Regions from separate parts of the Homo sapiens genome. Here region 2 is linked to region 1. Evidence: fine-mapped QTL for protein levels in blood plasma. A gene starts in region 1. The other region holds a variant in brackets. All regions are shown on one strand. Distances are between the middles of the regions.

What was found. PIP is the posterior inclusion probability: the model's chance that the variant is causal. The UK Biobank Pharma Proteomics Project read protein levels with antibody pairs (Olink). The fine-mapping took linkage between variants from a reference panel, not from the people measured, so its PIPs are less certain.
Region 2: its variant is fine-mapped to the plasma level of the BIN2 protein (UK Biobank, PIP above 0.99).

The regions. Positions count from the first base shown.
Region 1 is chr12:51,320,849-51,333,028 of GRCh38, forward strand. BIN2 (bridging integrator 2) reads right to left here and starts at 3,326. Exons shown (of 13, transcript NM_016293.4): 1 at 3,174-3,326. The coding sequence starts at 3,254. It overlaps CELA1 (chymotrypsin like elastase 1), which reads right to left. Exons shown (of 8, transcript NM_001971.6): 7 at 8,836-8,985; 8 at 7,594-7,746. The coding sequence ends at 7,729. It overlaps LOC105369767 (a long non-coding RNA gene), which reads right to left and starts at 3,160. Exons shown (of 2, transcript XR_944957.3): 1 at 2,880-3,160; 2 at 1,520-2,355. RefSeq lists silencers at 1-91, 3,072-3,561, 6,257-6,551 and an enhancer at 2,852-3,041.
Region 2 is chr12:51,298,841-51,306,840 of GRCh38, forward strand. It overlaps BIN2 (bridging integrator 2), which reads right to left. Exons shown (of 13, transcript NM_016293.4): 3 at 4,247-4,301; 4 at 3,846-3,940; 5 at 3,180-3,275; 6 at 767-874; 7 at 363-448. Among named protein-coding and RNA genes, the nearest start is that of BIN2, 21 kb to the right of the region's middle. The variant GT/G (reference allele first, on the strand shown) is at 3,167.

The DNA.
Region 1 (12,180 bases):
GGATCTGAGAGGTTTGCCACAGAGAAATCACAAACAGATGGTGAAAGCAGTACTATAGTTGGAAATGAGAAGATGTATCATACTAAAAACACACACACACACACAAACACACACACACACACTCTAAAGCCAGCTTAAATTCAGTCCCATGTTGAGTTTGGGCGGGAAATGGAAAACAGACCAAGAATGTTTCATCCCTATTGTGTTTAATGGTCACCAGACCTCCACTCCCAGCTTTTCAGAGGATGCCTGAACAAAAAGTGTTTCTACTTCTGAGCTCTGTTCCTGAGAGAGGATCAGCAGGAAGTGGGGGAGGCACAGATGTGAGAGTGGCTTATCAGGAACGTTGTAAAGCAGCAGCCTGAGTGAGGTTAGGATTCAGAGGCAGGACACCTGGGTTTCAGTAATATTTCTGCTACCTACCAATCTCTTTTGAGCCTTGTTTCCTTATTTCTAAAACAGAGATGCTAATAACCTGCTTAAAGTGTTGAATAGATGAAGGGAGATGACATCGGTAGAATGTTGGCTCCATAAAGGGAGAGAGAATCACTTTGTCTTTTTTTTTTTTGAGACAGAGTTTTGCTCTTGTTGCACAAGTTGGAGTGCAATGGCGCGATCTCGGCTCACGGCAACCTCCGCCTCCCAGGTTCAAGCGATTCTCCTGCCTCAGCCTCCTGAGTAGCTGGGATTACAGGCATGCGCCACCACACCCGGCTGATTTTGTATTTTTAGTAGAGACGGGGTTTCTCCATGTTGGTCAGGCTGGTCTCGAACTCCCGACCTCAGGAGATCCACCTGCCTGGGCCTCCCAAAGTGCTGGGATTACAGGCGTGAGCCACTGCACCCCGCTGATAATCACTTTCTTATATCCCTGTCTCTGGTCCATAATAGGCGCTTGATATTTGACACATTTCACTATTTGACACATTAGCTATTACTTATTACTCAGAAGATTACATCCAACTGCTTGCAGAAAAAGCAAAAAGTGTTGCAAGGAATTCTTTCATTTTAGTGCAAATTTCTCCCTCTTTATCTTGGTCTCAATAACTTCCCAAGACTCAAGGACTGGCTTCAGGCTGACGGAGCTGAGCTCCCTTCCGGCATCCCAGGCCATTCCCACCTTATCGAAGTTCAACCTTTGCCTACCCTTTTGTCTAGTCTAGGTTCAGAATATCTTGTTTTCTTCATCAGCTGGGAATTCCTCATGGCAGATTTGAGTTTGCTCCTCTTTCTCTACTTCCTCAGGGTTCAGGCCAGAAGAACCTGAGAGACTGGTTCTGTCTTTGGGAAGTATTTGACTCTGAGTCTAATGTGACAGCTTTTCAATTTAGTGTTCTTACCATATTGAGTTTCATCAAGAACATCAACCCTCTCATTTTACAGGTGCAAGATCTGAAGCCCAGAGCAGGACATTATTTAGCCAAGGTTTGGAGTCTATGCTTACAAAGGAGTGAAAGCCCAAAGCAAGGTTTTAGTGTTGACGAGAGGCTAGATGAAGACAGAAGATGCAAGAGTGAAATACAATCAATTGTATGTCTTTTATTTTTATGTATTTATTTTTATTTTTTGAGACAGAGTCTCCCTCTGCTTGAGTGTGGTGTGGTGTGATCACTGCTCACTGCAGTCTTGATCTCCTGGGCTCAAGCAGTCCTCCCACCTTGGCCTCCCAAAGTGCTGGGATTACAGGAGTGAGCCACTGTGCCTGGCTGGTATGTCTTTTTAAAATTACTATCATTCATGAGTGTTTTGTCTTTTAGGGTTTTTTTTTTTTTCAACCACAGTGTGGCCTTCTCTCCAGTACCTCCTGCTCGCCCACACTGTTTCGAGCTAGACCTTCCCATAGGCCCTGCTCTCGGGTCTACCAGATTTGTAAGTCTTCAGAGAGGCTGAAACTAGGATCAAGGTGAAGTTAGGGTAAGTGAAGTAACGAAGTCTGGCTACACGAACTCTTTCCCTTTTCCTCCTCTCTTTCACATGACCTCAAATGATAGAAAATAACCTCCCTTCCATTGTGGTCTCTTAAAGTCAGGAGCTACATCTACATTCCATCAGTTTTCTGCTGATAAATCAACTCGGGAGAGCTGGTTGCCTTTAAGCCTTCCCAGGGCTCAAAGCAGTGCTCCACTTTTAGAAGATAATAGGGATATTTCAGTTGGTAAGCAGAGCTGTTCATCCAAATGCTTCTAAGTCCATCAGCTCTTAGAAAACCAAAACTTCTCCGTTGTAGAAGGCAGGTTGGGCTTAATAAAGAGAGAGAGAAAAAAAGGAAAACCGAAACTCTATCTCAGGTCCTTCTTGTCTTTCTTCCCTCGCTCTTTCTTCTGGCTGACATGTCTTCCCAAACCGCCTTGTCTACTAGAGGGTTGGTAGGTGGAGAGCAGAGGCTCAGGTTAGAAGCAAAGAAAATATTCTGTACAGGTAGAAACAAAAATGCCATCAAAATGTGTAGAGAATGTCCCCACAATTTAGATTGCCAAGCAAGTAATAGATGGGCAGCCCACCTAAGTGCCAGTGCTGGAGCAGGGCTACCTGACACTAACCAAGGACACACTCTGAACACAGATGTGGTTCATCACCCTGGGAGGTGTACTCCCCAACGCCAAAGGGAGGGTAGAAGAAGCAGATTTGGGCTCCTGCTTACGTCAGCTGAAACACCACCCAGAGGCCAGGCAGGGTCAGGTAGGGGGAGAACTATGCAGGATTATTCTAAGCCTTTGGTGGGGGGTGCCTGCTGGCATCCGCTGCATCGCTGTTTTTGGGGAAATTGCCCTCTATGGAAAATTACCCTCCAATTTCATCATCTGTAAAATACCAATTTTGGATTGCTAGCACAAAATTTGATACAAAGGTGGCCACCACCATCACTTCCTTTCTTTCACCTTTTCTGGGTCAGCCTGAGGGTTGTCGAAGGTTCTGCCCAGAGACTGTTGTCTCCCCAGCTTCCCTTATCCTTGCCCAAGATCGGGTGGCGGTCTCCGACCTCTCTCCAATCTGCCAGTTTTCATGGAAGCCCACTCCTCGCTCCCGTTTCCCTGGGAGAGCGGGAGACCCTTCTCGTCAGCCCAGACCCTTCGGGGCCCCTGAGCACCCTGCCCGCCCCTCCTGCCCGGCCGGGCTCGGCCTCGGCCTCGGCTCCCTGTGGGCCAGACAGACAGCGAGGCCCGGCCACCTACCTTCTCCTGGGCCCTGCTAAACTTCTTCTGCACCTGCTTGGCGAAGAGGCCGGCCGCGCCGCCTGCCTTGCCCTCTGCCATCCTGCCAACTCCCTGGGGGCCGCCGCCCTGGCCCCGCGCCCTGTGGTTTTCTGAGGCCCCCGAGGAGGAAGTGCGGGCTCCCGGCATGCCTCGCATCCGGCCCCAGCCCTGAGCCACCTCAGGCCGCCCCTGGCCAGCCCTGAGGCCCGCCCCTCAGCCCACCACTGTCAGCTGGAGCAGGCCGGCTCGGAGGGGCGGGCCCGGGGCCTACCCTCAGGCAGCGCTCGCTCGAGGCCAGCTTCCGAGCTCCAACCCCTGCCCGAAACCTCGGCCTCACTGAACCAGGTCCTCAGTGGTGGGCCCACACTCACTCGCTCCGGAAAGCCAGTTCCCATCACGCTGAGCACTGCAAAGCAACTGCCACCGCAGGGTAGAAAATGATGTGGGTTCCACTCAGCGAGAGGACCTACCATATCGAAAACACGTTTAGGTTCTCTGAGTATGCATGCGAAGCCGCCATGTACACTGCGTTTCTTGCTCCAGGTAGGCTCTAAGCCTGGAACTGGTAGGGATAGAGTGCAGAAAGCAGGCAGGACACCCGAGCCGGGCTTGAAAGAGAGAAACAGGCCGGGCGCGGTGGCTCACGCCTGTAATCCTAGCACTTTGGGAGGCCGAGGCGGGTGGATCGCCTGAGGTTAGGAGATCAGCCTGACCAATACGGTGAAACCGCGTCGCTACTAAAAATACAAAAATTAGCTGGGTGTGGTGGCGCACGCCTGCAGTCCCAGCTACTCGAGAGGATGACGCAGGAGAATTGTTTGAACCCGGGAGGCAGAGGTTGCAGTGAGCCGAAATCGCGCCACTGCATTCCAGCCTGGGCGACAGAGCGACAGTTCGTCTCAAATAAATAAATAAATAAATAAATAAATAAATAAATAAATGAGGAACAACTAAGCTGGAGATAGAAACAGGGTAGGGGGCTGGTTCTTAGGCAAGAGAATGATCACATTGAAAAAAGGCTGAGGAGGATAGTATGGACGCCCGTGCTGAGCATGAGGAGCAAGTTTTTCTAGTTGGAGTACAGTGTACTGGATGGAGGCAGAATGTGAACACAGACACAGATTGTGCAAATTGGGGTGCGGCTGTTGAGATGACAACTATTGTTTCTTTAGGGAGAAGTTCTCCAAAAAATTCCTCCCTGACCTGTTTGAGGGGATAGCTTGAGATTAGGACACTAGGTGTGGAGGAACCACGTACTCAGATTTTACAGTGCAGGTTAAAATTTCCTCAAGGCAGGGAAGAAGGTCAAAATAACACTTCCTAAGGAGTGGAGGGGGAAGATAGGGCCTGACACAAAATTAGAGGCCCTTGTATGCTACTGTGTTCCTCTTCTTTCTCCAAAACAATCATTACTGCACTCAAGGTCAACTGTGTACCAGGCATTGCTGGGTGTTCTGAAACAAGGATGAATAAAATGCAGTCCCTGACCTTAAGATGCTTAATGAAGTCTGGCCGGGCACCACGGCTCACACCTGTAATCCCAACACTTTAGGAGGCTGAGGCAGGCAGATTGCTTGAGCCCAGGAGTTTGAGACTAGCCTGCGCAACATAGCAAGACCTTCTCTCTGCTAAAAATACAAAAATTAATTGGGCGTGGTGGCACACACCTGTAGTCCCAGCTATCAGGGAGGCTGAGGTGGGAGGATCACCCGAGCCAAGGGAGGTGGAGGCTGCAGTGAGCCCTGATGGTGCCACTGCATTCCAGCCTGGGCAAAGCGTGAGGCCCTTTCTCAACCAATAAAGAATAAGTATTAATAAATAAGTACATAAATAAAGATGCTTAAAGTCTGGAAGTGGAGATAGGTGGGTAATCAGGTGATTCTAATGTAATGTGCTTAATTTATTTGTAGAGATGGATACAAAATTTTCTGGGAATAGGTGATTAGGGTTTGTTTGTTTGTTTGTTTGTTTGGAGACAGGGTCTTGCTTTGTTGCCAGGCTGGAGTGCAGCAGTGCCATCAGGGCTCACTGCAGCCTCTACCTCCCAGGCCCAAGTGATGGTCTCACCTCAGCCTCCTGAGTAGCTGGGACTAAGGTGCGTGCATGCCACCACTCCTGGCTACCCAGGCTGATCTGGAACTCTTGAGCTCAAGCAATCCACCCGCCTCAGCCTCCCAAAGGGCTGGGATTACAGGTGTGAACCACCTTGCCCTGCCAGGCGATTAGGGTTTATTCTGGATGTTAGCTTTGGTGATGCCCTGGAAGAGGCAGGGTGATGAAAATAGAAGGACTTGATATTGGATGGGGAGAAGTGGGGAGAAGCATGGAGAATAGCAGTACTGCGGGAACACTGAGAGTAGATGGCAATGCTAACAGGTGTGTCACTGGCAGAAGGAGGCCAGTACCTGTGTCCCTGCCAGGACTACATGGCATCCTCAGCAATGCAACCCAGCCACTGTCTCCTAAGAAACTCTGTTTAGTGCCAATATCTTGCAAACTGAAATTGATGGTCACCAAATCATGTAGTGTTAGAGAAGAAACAACCCTTAGAAGTTAATTAGATAGGGAAATTGAGTCACAGAAAGGGCTGATGACTTGACCACAGCCACCCAGCTCCTCAGTGGTGGAACTGGGATGGGAACAGACTCAGCCTCTTATAGCACATGGAGTGTTCTAGAGGCCTCTGCTGAGCCTGTCAATTCCAGGGTCTGTCTCAGCCAGTTTCTCCTTCTGTAATGTTTAATACCCTAGTCCCTCTTGTCTGGTCTTAAGTGATTGACATGAAAAGCTGCTTCTCATCCTTTTTAGCCTTCCCCTTTCAGTTCCCCCTTTGCTTTCTCATAGGCCACTCTAACAGACTGAGCCCTGGCCAGGATACAGCAGAATTATCAGTTTCCCAGTTCTCTGTGGTTTATAGAACCCTGGATCCGGTTGCCTAATTTTAGTCCCAGCCTTAAAGTGCTGATTCACACTTAGCTTGAGGCCCTATGTTGTTGTTGCCTCTTCCTTTCTGTTCTGCCTCTTCCCCTCAACCCTTTCGTTTCTTTGTTTAGTATCTTCTCTTCTCTCCTTTTTTCTATTCTTAGCTCTCCAGTCTCCATTGTTGTTTTTTTTTTTTTTTGAGACAGAATCTCACTTCATTGCCCAGGCTGGAATGCAGTGGCGCAATCTTGGCTCACTGCGGCCTCCACCTCCCAGGCCCAAGCGATTTTCTCCAGTCTCCTTTCTAATTTGTCACTTTCTTAGTCTGCTGGTATCTGCCCTGCCTCCTAATCTTATACTTCTATCTCTGGTGTATCCTAGTAGTTGCCATCACCCAGAAACTTGGAGTGGGCGTTCGTTTTAGGCACTAAAGGGGGAAACAAAAGAAGGATGAACCCACAGTATACCTGGGAAAGACAGGGCACATTCAGTCACTCAGGAAGTTTTTTGTTTGTTTGTTTTGAGACGGAGTCTTGCTTTGTTGCCCAGGCTAGAGTGCAGTGGCACGATCTCAGCTCACTGCAACCTCCACCTCCTGGGTTCAAGTAGTTTTCCTGCCTCAGCCTCTTGAGTAGCTGGGATTCCAGGCGCCTGCCACTGTGCCCAGCTAATTTTTGTATTTTTAGTAGACACGAGGATTCACCATCTTGGCCAGGCTAGTCTCGAATTCCTGACCTCGTTATCCACCCACCTCGGCCTCCCAAAGTGCTGGGATTACAGGCGTGAGCCACCGTACCCAGCCCACTCGGGAACCTTTTTTTTTTTTTTTTTTTTTTGAGATGGTCTTTCGCTCTTGTTGCCCAGGATGGAGTGCAACGGTGCAATCTTGGCTCATTGCAACCTCCACCTCCCGGGTTCAAGCGATTCTCCTGCCTCAGCCTCCCAAGTAGCTCTGTGCCTTCGAATATAGCAAATATCCACAGGAATAGGGCAGATGGACAGATTAGTGGATACATAGATCCTAAAGTAACCCAAAATGGATAACATAAAGCTACTCCCACTGGGTTTGTGTTGTGGACTGGTAGAGGTAGCAGCAAAGGGAAGACCCAGCCTGCAGATGTGGTGAAATCCAACTTGGATCCTATAACTGCATTTCTTCTAAATCAGTGGTCCCCAACCTTTTTGGCACCAGGGACCCGTTTCGTGGAAGACAATTTTCCACGAACCGGGGTGGGGGATGGTTTCGAGATGATTCAAGGGCATTACATTTATTGTGTACTACATTTCTATTATTATTACACTGTAATATATAGTGAACTAATTATACAACTCACCATAATGTAGAATCAGTGGGATCCCTGAGCTTGTTTTCCTGCAACTAGACGGTCCTGTCTGGGGGTGATGGGAGACAGTGACAGATCATCAGGCATAGGGACCCCTGCTCTGGAGGGCTTAATTACAAATAGACACAGTATGATAATGTATATCTAGTTTTATTTGCTTTTCTATCAATGGCTCAATAGTCTTTCAGAATGTGTTTTACTTTTTGATCGCAAGTCCTACTGCAGATCTAAGAACCATTTTGGGAAGGTCGTTGGACTCAGGAAAATGTTCAGTTGGAGGCGATGACCTGAAGGAAAGACAGTTATGTCCACAGTCAGTAACTCCTGCCTACCTCCTTTCTTGTTTCCTCAGGGCTCCCAGTTAAGTATGGTTTTGTACTGGGTTTATGGGAAGTTGACAGGGTGTGGGGACAGGGAGGCAGGAAGTCAGCCTCAACTGTGATAGGACAGCTCAGTGTTATAGGTACATACCCAGAATACAGTGGCAAAGACAGACCTTGAAATGGCCGTGAGCCAAGATTAATACACAAGGCTCCAGAATGTGTTTGAAGGGTGGAGGGCACAGTGAAATGTGTTGTGTGGCCTTTCCACCAGGTCAGTGTAGGCAGAGCCTCACCTAACTCTCAAGCATTATTTAAGGTGGTAAAACCTGTCAAAAATTAGAGCAGGCCGGGCGCTGTGGCTCATGCCTGTAATCCCAGCACTTTGGGTGGCAGGTGGATCACTTGAGGTCAGGAGTTCAAGACCAGCCTGACCAACATGGTGAAACCCGATCTCTACTAAAAATACAAAAAAAATTTACCAGGTTTGGTGGTGCATGCCTATAATCCCAACTACTTGGGAGGCTGAAGCAGGAGAATCACTTGAACCCAGGAGGCAGAGGCTGCAGTGAGTCGAGATCAAGCCACTGCACTCCAGCCTGGGTGACACAGTGAGACTCTGTCTCAAAAAAAAAAAAAAAAAAAAGTTAGAGCAAATTATCATAATGTCCTTAGAAAGACGTTGTGGGAGAGGAAGTCGGTGCCTCCTTCCCTTGCCTAGGAGTACGCAGGCCTTTCTGAACCTGTTTTTCCCTGGGCTTTGACTTAGGAAGGCACTGATATGTCCCTGATTCAGATTTGATGTTGCCACTGTCTTACCCTAAGCAATAAACAATACAGTGAAGTCTGCTCTGTGGGTATGTGGAGGGGAGGGAATTCAGGATGGCAGCCTTATTGAAGGAAAGTACACCGTGGAAGGAAGGGAAGGGAGTAAACACATGAATGTGGTAAGGAAGATGACGGCTTGCCCAGTCCATCCAACGTTTGTTCCCCAACCCAGCCAGTGCGTAGGTCTCCAGGTGACCCCATTTCAACCCATCATTTGAGAGGACTCACATTATTTATCCAGGAGATGTAAGCAGAGACCTGGGTGAAGACTGTAGGCTTCCTGGAGACATTACAGCCCCGGCTGGACACAAAGCTGGTCACTCCATGGACAGAATACTTGCCATTCACCAAGCAATGGAGGGGGCCCCCAGAGTCACCCTGCAGGGAGGAGAAACAGAATCCTAAAACTCCAGATCTTCGGGCTTTTGCTTGCACTCCCCCCGCCCCCGTCTCTGGTTGTGAAATTCTGTACGGTTTTAAAGCTCCAATGCAAATCTCCACCTCCTTCATGTCCCCACAATCAAAATGAATCTCTTCTTCCTTTCTAAACAACCACAATACTTCTTCTCTTTTGCTGCACTTATTTCATGTTCTGCCTTGTATTTTGGTTTCATAATTTGTTTGTACCTCCTCACACATGTCTATGAGCTTCCTGAGACAAAAACTCTTACCAAGATCTTTCCTCTCCACAATGCTAGCATAGAACTTTAAATATCTAAAGTTCAATCGCTTTTATTGGCTTAAATTGAACCTGGGGTGGCAAAAATAGGGCATTCTAATAATTTCTTTATCCCCAGCATTTAGACCAATGGGTATAATTAGACCAAGTATTTAGACTTGGTAGTCAAAACATGCTAAACTAAACTGGAATGAAGAGGAAAGTGATGTATTAGGTCACATGCTCAACTGGGAACCTGGGTTTATGGAATATGATCTTGCCTCCCTTCTTACTCAGCTTCTAGAATGCCAGGTCCATAATGCCACACATAAAATGGGAAGATACTTCTCTGGAAAAACTGAACAGTCCAAGAGGAAAGACCTAAAGATACTGACATTGGAGGTCCTCCACTAAAATGGCCTAGCCAGATCACCTGACAGAGAATCCACTATTGATGAACCCCATCTAAGGCTCAGAGCTACCAATCAGCCCACCCACTCTGGGTAAAAATACCACCCCCACTCTGAAATAAAAGCAGATGGTTAAGGATCACTAAACATCTAAAGAATGCCTCTAGCCGGGCCCAGTGACTCATGCCTGTAATCCCAGCACTTTGGGAGGCTGAGGCGGGCGGATCACGAGGTCAGGAGATCGAGACCATCCTGGCTAACACGGTGAAACCCCATCTCTACTAAAAATACAAAAAATTAGCCGGGCGTGGTGGTGGGCGCCTGTAGTCCCAGCTACTCGGGAGGCTGAGGCAGGAGAATGGCGTGAACCCGGGAGGCAGAGCTTGCAGTGAGCCAAGATGGCGCCACTGGGCTCCAGCCTGGGCGACAGAGTGAGACTCTGTCTCAAAAAAAAAAAAAAAAAAGGAATTCATCTAATATAAAAATAAAGATTGAAACAAAGAAACAAGGAGCTAAATAAAAAAATGAAGGCAACCAAGACTATGCAGGGAGAAGAAAACAAGCAATAAAACCATAACTAATAGGCTGGGCATGGTGGCTCCACACCTGTAATCCCAGCACTTTGGGAGGCTGAGGCGGGCGGATCACCTGAGGTCAGGAGTTCAAGACTAGGCCAACACAGTGAAACCCCTAAAACTCTATTAAAAATACAAAAATTAGCCGGGCGTGGTGGTACATGCCTGTAATCCCAGTTACTCAGGAGGCTGAGGCAGGAGAATCGCTTGAACCCAGGAGCTGGAGGTTGTAGTGAGCTGAGATTGCACCACTGCACTTCAGCCTGGGCGACAGAGCGAGACTCCGTCTCAAAACAAACACACAAACAAAAAACATGACTAATATGCATCCATGATACAAGAACGGCATACTACTAAACAACATTCAGACAGCAAAAAGAGCCTTTGGAAATTACAGATTTGATAGATTTAGAAATGAGAGACTGGAAGAGTTGGAACATAAGATAGAACAAACAAGATATAGAGAAAACAAGAGGACCAGCTTAGGAGGCAAACATGTGAATAACAGAAATTCTAGAAAGAGAAAAGTGAAAATAGAGTGGGAGGAAATCAACAAATAAACAACATTTTCTGGATCAAAGGTCTGGAGTTTCCGGGAAAACCCACCCATTAAGTATCCCTCACAACGAATGCAAATAGATCCACATAGACCACTAGGTCAAGAGAAGATGATATAGGTCACTTAACAAATTAGTGGAGTGTGTGGGGTTGAATTAATGAAAAACTGACTATATTAAGCAAATGAAAAAGACAATTTTTAACAGACATTGAAAAAATTGAAAAAGTTGTGCAGCAAGGGCTGACCTTGGTGGTTTATGACTGTAATCCCAGCACTTTGGGAGGCTGAGGCAGGAGGACTGCTTAAGCTAAAGCCAGGAGTTTGAGACCAGCCTGGGGTACAAACCGAGACCCCCATCTCTATTAAAATTTTAAAAAATCAGCTGAGTGTGGTGGCATGTGCCTGTAGTCCTGGCTACTCAGGAGATTGAGGTGGGAGGATTTCTTGAGCCCAGAAATTCAAGGCTGCAGTGAGCTGTGATTGTGCTACTGCACTCCAGCCTGGGTGACAGAGTAAGATCCTGTCTCTTTAAAAAAAAAAAAAAAAAGTTATGCAGCAAATGAAAAGTAAACCTAGAATATATTACATGATTTTGTTGTAAATAGCATTTTATATAATCATAGTAAATGCCGAATGTTGATCTAACCAAAATATTTTGAGAGGTTGAGATGGTGATCAGAAAATGTCATGCTTGGAGGGCAGGTATGTATATATAAAAAATAAAGAGAATCACATCTGCCATAATGTCAACACAAAAATAGCAGTGTAAGTATATAATTTTAAAGATGTAGACACCAAAAGAATCAGCTGAAGAGTTGAAAGTGGCCTCCCATGGGGTGGGAGAACTAGAGTAGCTATTCTTTTCCATTATTGAGCCCCATAATCTTATTTGCCAATTTAAGCTTCAATAAAAAGTAAAACTTGGGGCCAGGTGTGGTGGCTTACACCTGTAATCCCAGCACTTTGGGAAGCCGAGGTGGGTGGATCACGTGACGCCAGGAGTTTGAGACCAGCCTGGCCAACATAGCGAAACCCCGACTCTACTAAAAATACAAAAAAAATTAGCCAGGTATGGTGGCTCATGCCTGTCATCCCAGCTACTGAGGAGGCTGAGGCACAAGAACCCAGGAGGAGGAGGTTGCAGTGAGCTGAGATCACGCTACCGTACTCCAGCCTGGGCAACAGAGCAAGACTCTGTCTCAAAAACAAACAAACAAAAGTAAAACTTAAAAAAAACTAGGGAAAGAGACCAAAATTTCAAACTGGGATAATTCTGTGTGTGTTTGTTTTGAGATGGAGTCTCGCTCTGTCGTCCAGGCTGGAGTGCAGTAGTGCCATTTCGGCTCACTGCAACCACCACCTCCCAGGTTC
Region 2 (8,000 bases), 24 kb before region 1:
GGGGGATCACTTGAAGCCAGGAGTTCGAGACCAGCCTGGGCAACATGGTGAAACCCCATCTCTACTAAAAATACAAAAAAAAATTAGCCAGGCATGGTGGCACATGCCTGTAATCCCAGGTACTCGGGTGGCTGAAGCACAACAATCACTTGAACTAGGGAGGTGGAGGTTGCAGTGAGCTGAGATTGAGTGCTACTGCACTCTAGCCTGGGTGACAGAGTGAGACCCTGTCTCGAAAAAAAAAAAAAGGGGGCGGGGCAGTGTGGGAATTTAAATCTAAAACACTTTTATCTACTTACTGTCAAGGCACACAAGGTGCCTTGTGTGAAGCAAAGGCACCTTTTCTGAATTTCAGTCATTACCTATTATAAAGAATAGGCAGCTCCTCTAGTAGTTCTTGGTTCAGATCTTCAAACACAGTCTGGGCTTTGTTGAACTCTTCCTCTGCCTAGGTGGTAAAAGAGACAAGACAATCTCCCTCAATTCTGAACCCAGTACTACAGCATGCCTCCTTCATCCTCTGCATTTTTTTAGGCACTAGGCTTTTTAGGAGCCATCCCTCTTCTTCCCCTGACCATGCCCTCCCCAGCCTCAAGACTCTGACTATCCTTACAGCATCAGTGTCAGAAGAAACAGATTTCCTTTAGGACACTGGATGCTGAATTTATAATTTCCTATACCCATGTTGGCCCAGCCACCTGCTACCACCATGGGGAGAAGGAGAACAGGAAGGGTTTACCAGTTTTTGTTGTTGTTTTTGTTTTACCTTGGCAGTCTTGGCCTCATCTTTCTTCTTGGCATTCTGCACTGCCTCCAGGTGGTGTCGGGCACTGTCATAGTCCACGAGTTTCCGACCCCGCTTGGCAATTCTCTCCTGACCCAGGGTAATGAGAAAGGGTGTGGATACTCACTTTTTAGTGGCCAGGATGTAGGTAACAGAATACCAAACAGAGAGCAAGATTCTTGCATCCTACTATCAAATTTCACTTTCGTTGTTTTTTGCTTTTGTTTTTTTTGAGACAGGGTCTTGCTCTGTTGCCCAGGCTGGAGTGCAGTTGTGCGATCTCAGCTCACTGTAACCTCTGCCTCCCAGATTCAAGCAATTTTTGTGCTTCGGCCTCCCAGGTAGCTGGAATTATAGGCATGTGCACCAAGCCCGGCTAATTTTTGCATTTTTAGTAGAGATGGGGTTTTGCCATCTTAGCCAGGCTGGTCTCGAACTCCTGGGCTCATGTGATATGCCCACCTCGGCCTCCCAAAGTGCTGGGATTACAGGCAGGAGCAACCGCACCTGGCCCAAATTTCACTTTCTAATAGGGTTTTGCGCCCATGGGGTCTCCCTCAGTATCTGGGAAGAATGGGGGAGTCTCAGAGGGAGATAGAGTCCTACAGAGCATGTGGAAATCTGTATTAATTATATATATGTAATAGATATATAATTAAATACATATATATATTTCCACCTCCACCTCCCGCTGTATTAAATTTTAATATTTCCTATGAACCCATTATAAACTGGTTCAGCCTCCAGGAGAAATGGCCTTGAGAATCACATGAAAGTGAAAGTCTGGATTTTTGGGAATTAGTCCCAAATCTGCCATTCATAGCCTGTGGCCAGTGGCAAGGCACATCTCTTTTGGAGCCTCAGTAGCCCCATCTCCCCTTATACAACTGTTATTTGAAAGAGTGAATGCTGAATACAAAGTGCTTTGAAAGCTCTAAAACACAATAAAAGCTATAAATTACTATGACCACTGAGAGAAAGTCTACTCAGCCTTATCCAAACTATAAATTATACCAGTGAGAAGCAAACTATGTCTTTGAACCGTTTCATTCTCTCAGTCACAGAATTTGAAAAGATCTTAGCAATTATCTGGTCCAATTTCCCATACAATACCATGAGGCTTCTCTATAACATCCAAGATAAGAAGTAGTTTGACTTCTGTTTGCACAAAGAACAGACAACTCACTATCTTTGAGTCTATTTCATTTCATTTTTGGAAAGCTTTAACTATTAGGAACTTAAGTCAGCCTCCTTCTAACTTCTTCCTCTGAATCAGCACGGTGCTTGACAGAGTAGGTGTTTAATAAATACTAGAGCCGGGTGCAGTGGCTCACGCCTGCAATCCCAGCACTTTGGGAGGCCGTGGGCGGATCACCTGATGTCAGGAGTTTGAGACCAGCCTGGACAACACAGAGAAACCCTGTCTCCACTAAAAATACAAAAATTAGCTGGGCTTGGTGACGCATGCCTGTAATCCCAGCTACTCGGGAGGCTGAGGCGGGAGAATCCCTAGAACCCGGGAGGCGGGGGTTGCAGTGAGCCAAGACTGCGCCATTGCACTCCACCCTGGGCAACAGAGCAAGACTCCATCTCAAAAAAAAGAAAACAAAAACAAAAACAAAAAAAAACTAGCTGAATGAATAGATGAATTCTAATTCTGCTTTCTGGAACAGAAAGCAGAACAGTTTAGAATAGGTTGAATTCCTATTTTACCTAACAGACTTTCAAATATTTGAAGATAACTATTTGATTGCTCCATGTTTCCTCTTCTATACAATAAACATCTTTAGTGCCATCAGCTGTTTCTCACAGCTAAAAGGGATGCCTCTAACTTGGATCTAATTCGAAATCAGCCCAAATATAGCTTACTGAAATCTAAGTTTATTTTATTTATTTACTTTTTTTGAGACACCAGCCTCTGTCACCCAGGCTGGCGCACAGTGGCATGATCTTGGCTCACTGCAACCTCTCCCTCCCCAGCTGAAGTGATCCTTCACCTCAGTCTCCTAGGGTGGCTGGGACTACAGACACGCACCACCACATGACTATTTTTTTTTGTATTTTTTGTAGAGATGGGATTTTGCCATGTTGCCCAGGCTGGTCCCGAACTCCTGGGCTCAAGTGATTCTCTTGCATCGGCCTCCCAAAGTACTGGGATTACAGGTGTGAGCCACTGCACCCAGCCTTGAAATCTAAGTTTAAACATAAACTTCACACTACTTCCAACCTTCTATCCTAACCTCTTGTCTAACCCTCAACCTTAATCTTTCTCCTAACTTACCCAAACTTCATTCTTAATCGTGAGTTCTAATTCTACTTATAATGCTTAACCCAATATGTTCTCTAACCTGGATGGGTCATCCACAACCCAGCCTTGATTCT[GT/G]ACATTGAGTACCTTAATTTCACTGAACTGGGCAACATAGATTTCCATGGTCCTTACAGCCTGGTCAGCCAGTTTCTCCTCGTAGTCTTCCCAAAGGAGATCATTATTCTGTAGGATAGAGTCAGAGGCTGGTGAAGGCTCCACTTCCCAACAACAACTGCCTACCAGGGAAATACCCAAATTCTCCCTGCAAAAACCTTTTTTGTAGCACCGTATTTAGAATACCATGTTGGATTCTGGGGACTAGTCAGAGGAAGAAAAGAGACAGCCCCTACCCCAAGGAACTGCTCTATGGGAGTCTGAACATACATTCAGAGATTAAGAACAGGGCACAAGGTCAAAGCCTTGGACTCCAGAGCTTAGATGGGAAAGTTTAAGAGTGTATAACTGCATGAAGTTTGTTTTAAAAAACAACCAATCTTTAGGAGGTAAAACTTCCCATAATGTTTTAAAGAGGAGAAGAGGGTCAAAATTAGAGGGATCCACAGATTAGGGAAAACTTGTTTTTACCTTAACAGTTGTAGCTTCTTCCTACCACCCAGTGACTGAGGCTACACAAATGCACAGTGTGAACTGGCTCCTTTGTTTTCCTATTTTCTTGGATAGAGAAGCTAAGCTGAGGTTGAGATGCAAACAGGAGTAAGTGCCAATAAGTTGTAAAACTCAAGCCACTCTTACCCATACGATGGCCTTCAGCTCCTCATGACCGTCCCACTCGCTGCTGTAGATCTCCTGCAGGGTTTCTGACACTCTTTTTGAACTTTCATGCATCACTGAAAGGAGAGAATTCAGTCCCACCATCATGTTTCCCCAACAGTAGTTGGTGTAATCACATGGGTGACAAATCAGTGGTTCCAATTCAGAAGGACAAACTCAGAAGGTTTAGGTTATATAAGTGAGGAAAGCTGGATGGGGCTGAAAGGAAAAGTCACTCTTCCTCAGCCCACAAAATTCCAGGAGTCAAGAGTAGTCAAATGATAAAATGACAAAAACCTGGGGGTATGGCTATTGTTTTCCACCCCAAACCTCCTAGTAGCTGTATAAATGCCCTCTGGATTCTCCCATGCTGCATTGCCCACCTTTGACTGCACTAAGGAAGTTCTTCAGGTCCTTGTACAGCTTGTGGCCTTCTGCCTGAAAGAGAAAAGTACATTTGGTGACTAAAGAGATTAATATTTCAAAAGATGCTCCAGAGGTCAAAGTCAAAAAGTAGGTTAAGAGCAGAAATCACACCTGGAATTTCTCTAAATATTCACAATTGTTATAAGTCAGCCTTTACTTTCTTTACCAACCTGTTGTAGGTGGTCTCTTTTGTGTTAGTTTTTAAGATGGGTGCTTGCTAAAGCTCCCATTACACTGGCGTCTTCCTTTCAGTGAACAAGAGCCTATACCCAAGTTCCACTGTTGAAAGGTAAGTGTTCTCCATGTAACACTATCTATGCAATTCTCTGGCTTGCACCCTCCTCTCTGGGTAAAGTGCTACCATTTTCTGCAGACACCAGGCCTTCTTCTTTCTCTGAACCCTCACACAGACATTCCTCTCCTCCCCAATATCCTTCTCTGACTTGTCTCACTTTACCCTTCCCTTCCATCAGTCACCTTTTATACTACTCCAAGGAGCCTCATCATTGCTTCTCCTGTTCCACCCCGAATGTCTTCATCTATAGCTCTATCTATCCCTGCTTCCATCTTTGCTCCTGTGTCTGAAATCTCATTTTTTTAGGCTAGGAACCCCAAGTTCAGACAAGGGCTCCTCCTCCCTCTAAAAAAGGAGAGGAAGGTATTATTTAGACTTGGAAGTTCAAATCTCAATCTGGTAGATGAACTGCTTTTGTTATAACTCTGACAAATGTTCATTTAGCCTCTGCTTCCCAATACTTCCAGAAACTGGAAACTAATGTCTTGCCTGAGACAGTATCACTTGATTTTAAACTAGCTCTGTTAAAACTTTTTCTGGCTGGGCGTGGCAGTTCACACTTATAATCCCAGCACTTCGGGAGGCCAAGGCTGGCGGATCACTTGAGGACAGGAGTTCGAGACCAGCCTGGTCAAAATGGTGAAACCCTGTCTTTAGTAAAAATACAAATGTTAGCTGGGTGTGGTGGCGCACACCTGTAGTCCCAGCTACGCAGGAGGCTGAGGTAGAAGGATCGCTTGAACCTGGGAGGCGAAGACTGCAGTGAGCTGAGATCGGATCACGCCACTGTACTCCAGCCTCGGTGACAGAGCAAGACTCCATCTCAAAACAAACAAACAAACTTTTTCCTATTAGTCTTGGGTTGGCCTTCTGTACTCATAGAGTAGATCTAATTTCTCTTCCACACATGCTTGAAGACAACTTGCATGTGCCCTTGACCAAGCCTTTCTCACAGGTTTCCTCAATTGTTCCTTATGGTGTTTAGGCCCTCTTCCCATTTTGGTCTCCTTCCTATGTGTAAACTCATTTTGAAGAGTTGGTTGGGAATTTAAGGCCAGACATCTGACGTTCTGGAACCTGACTTCAGGACTGTGGACTGTAGGGATGGACTGAGAGGTGCAGCCCACTTCAAGGGAACTCTAGGGAGCCAGCCTACAGATCAGAACAGACCAGTTCAGGGGATGTTGTACTTGAAAGCCAAGCTGCATTATTCAGTACACCATAAAATACTTGTTGTGAATTTGTTCATTTGTTAATTGCTGTATTCATTACTTGATAGACTATTGATGATACCAAAAGTGTAAAAAACTGGCCAGGCGCAGTGGCTCACGCCTGTAATCCCAGCACTTAGGGAGGCCGAGGCGGGCGGATCACGAGGTCAGGAGATCAAGGCCATCCTGGCTAACACGGTGAAAGCCCATCTCTACTAAAAATACAAAAAAATTAGCTGGGTGTGGTGGCGGGCACCTGTAGTCCCAGCTACTCAGGAGGCTGAGGCAGGAGAATGGGCATGAACCCAGGAGGCAGAACTTGCAGTGAGCTGAGATCACGCCACCGTACTCCAGGCTGGGCGACAGAGCCAGACTCCGTCTCAAAACAAAACAAAAAACAAAAGTATAAAAAAGTATGGGGCCAGGCACGGTGGCTCACGCCTGTAATCCCAGCACTTTGGGAGGCCAAGGCAGGTGGATCACCCGAGGTCAGGAGTTTGAGACCAGCCTGACCAACATGGTGAAACCCCATCTCTACTAAATATAAAAAATTAGCAGGGTGTGGCGGCAGGCACCTGTAATCCCAGCTGCTTGGCAGGCTTAGGCAGGAGAATCGCTTGAACCCAGGAGGCAGAGGTGGCAGTGAGCCGAGAGCAAAACTCCATCTCAAAAATAAATAAATAAATAAAAATAAAAAATTATGGGAAAGGCTGGGCGCAGTGGCTCACGCCTGTAATCCTAGCAGTTTGGGATGCCAAGGCAGGAGGATCACGAGGTCAGGAGCTCTAGACCAGCCTGACCAATGTGGTGAAACCCTGTCCCTACTAAAAATACAAAAATTAGCCAGGCATGGTGGCACGCACCTGTAATCTCAGCTACTCAGGAGGCTGAGGCAGGAGAATCACTTGAACCCAGGAGGCAGAGGTTGCAGTGAGCCGAGATCGCACCACTGTACTCCACCCTGGGCAACAGAATGAAACTCCATCTCAAAAAAAAAAAAAATGAGAAAAAAAGGAAAATTCAGAAAATTCTATCTAGTGACAAAATTTTTCCTGTGGAAATCTTTGGGGAAAGGTCACTATTTACTTAATTTTAGCAGCAGAAAATTTAGGTCTACTTGGTCAAATCAAAGAAAACTGGACTAGTTATTTCATCCATTTTTTTTGCCTCCAGAGCTCACTGTTTTCTTTCTTTTTTTTTTTTTTTTTTTTTTTTTGAGATGGAGTCTCGCTCTGTCGCCCAGGCTGGAGTGCAGTGGCGTGATCTTGGCTCACTGCAACCTCCGCCTCCTGGGTTCAAGCGACAATTCTCCTGCCTCAGCCTCCTGCATAGCTAGGACTACAGGTGTGTGCCACCACGCCTGGCTAATTTTTTGTATTTTTAGTAGAGACAGGGTTTCACTGTGTTAGCCAGGATGGTCTCGATCTCCTGGCCTCGTGATCTGCCCACCTCGGCCTCCCAAAGTGCTGGGATTACAGGTGTGAGCCACTGTGCTGGGTCTCAGAGCTCACTTCTAAGCTAGTCCAAACTTTTGATCAAACTTCAGATCAAAAGTCCCTCTCAAGGGGCTGAATGTCAGTTTGAAGGGACATGAGGACACAGTCTTAAAGGAGTGAAAGGCACTGTCAGACAGGTACAGAACTGTGATTGTGTGCTGTGTTACAGCAAATGAGGATTAAGAGAACATCATATAAACAATCAAGGAAGTAGGCCAGGCGAGGTAGCTCAAATCTGTAATCCTAGCATTTTGGGAGGTTGAGGTAGGCAGATCACTTGAGGTCAGGAGTTCAAGACCAGCCTGGCCAACATGGTGAAAGTCCGTCTCCACTAAAGATACAAAAATTAGCCAGGTGTGGTGGTGGGTGCCAGTAATCCCAACTACTCGGGAGGCTGAGGCAGGAGAATCACTTGCACCCGGAAGGTGGAGGCTGCAGTGAGCTGCAATTGCGCCATTGCACTGCAGCCTGGGCGACACAGCAGACTCTGTCTAAAAATCAAAACCAATCAAGGAAGTGTCAGATGCTACAGAGACGTTAGAATGCAGGAAGAATTGGTAAAATTCACTGGATTTGGTAATGGGTCACTGGTGACCATGAGAAAGCACTTTCAATAGCATATTGGAGACAGATTCAGTCAGTTAACAAAATTCAGAAACACTCAGCATCTACCAGAAAGGATATCTCACTTCCTCCTTGCTTTTTCATT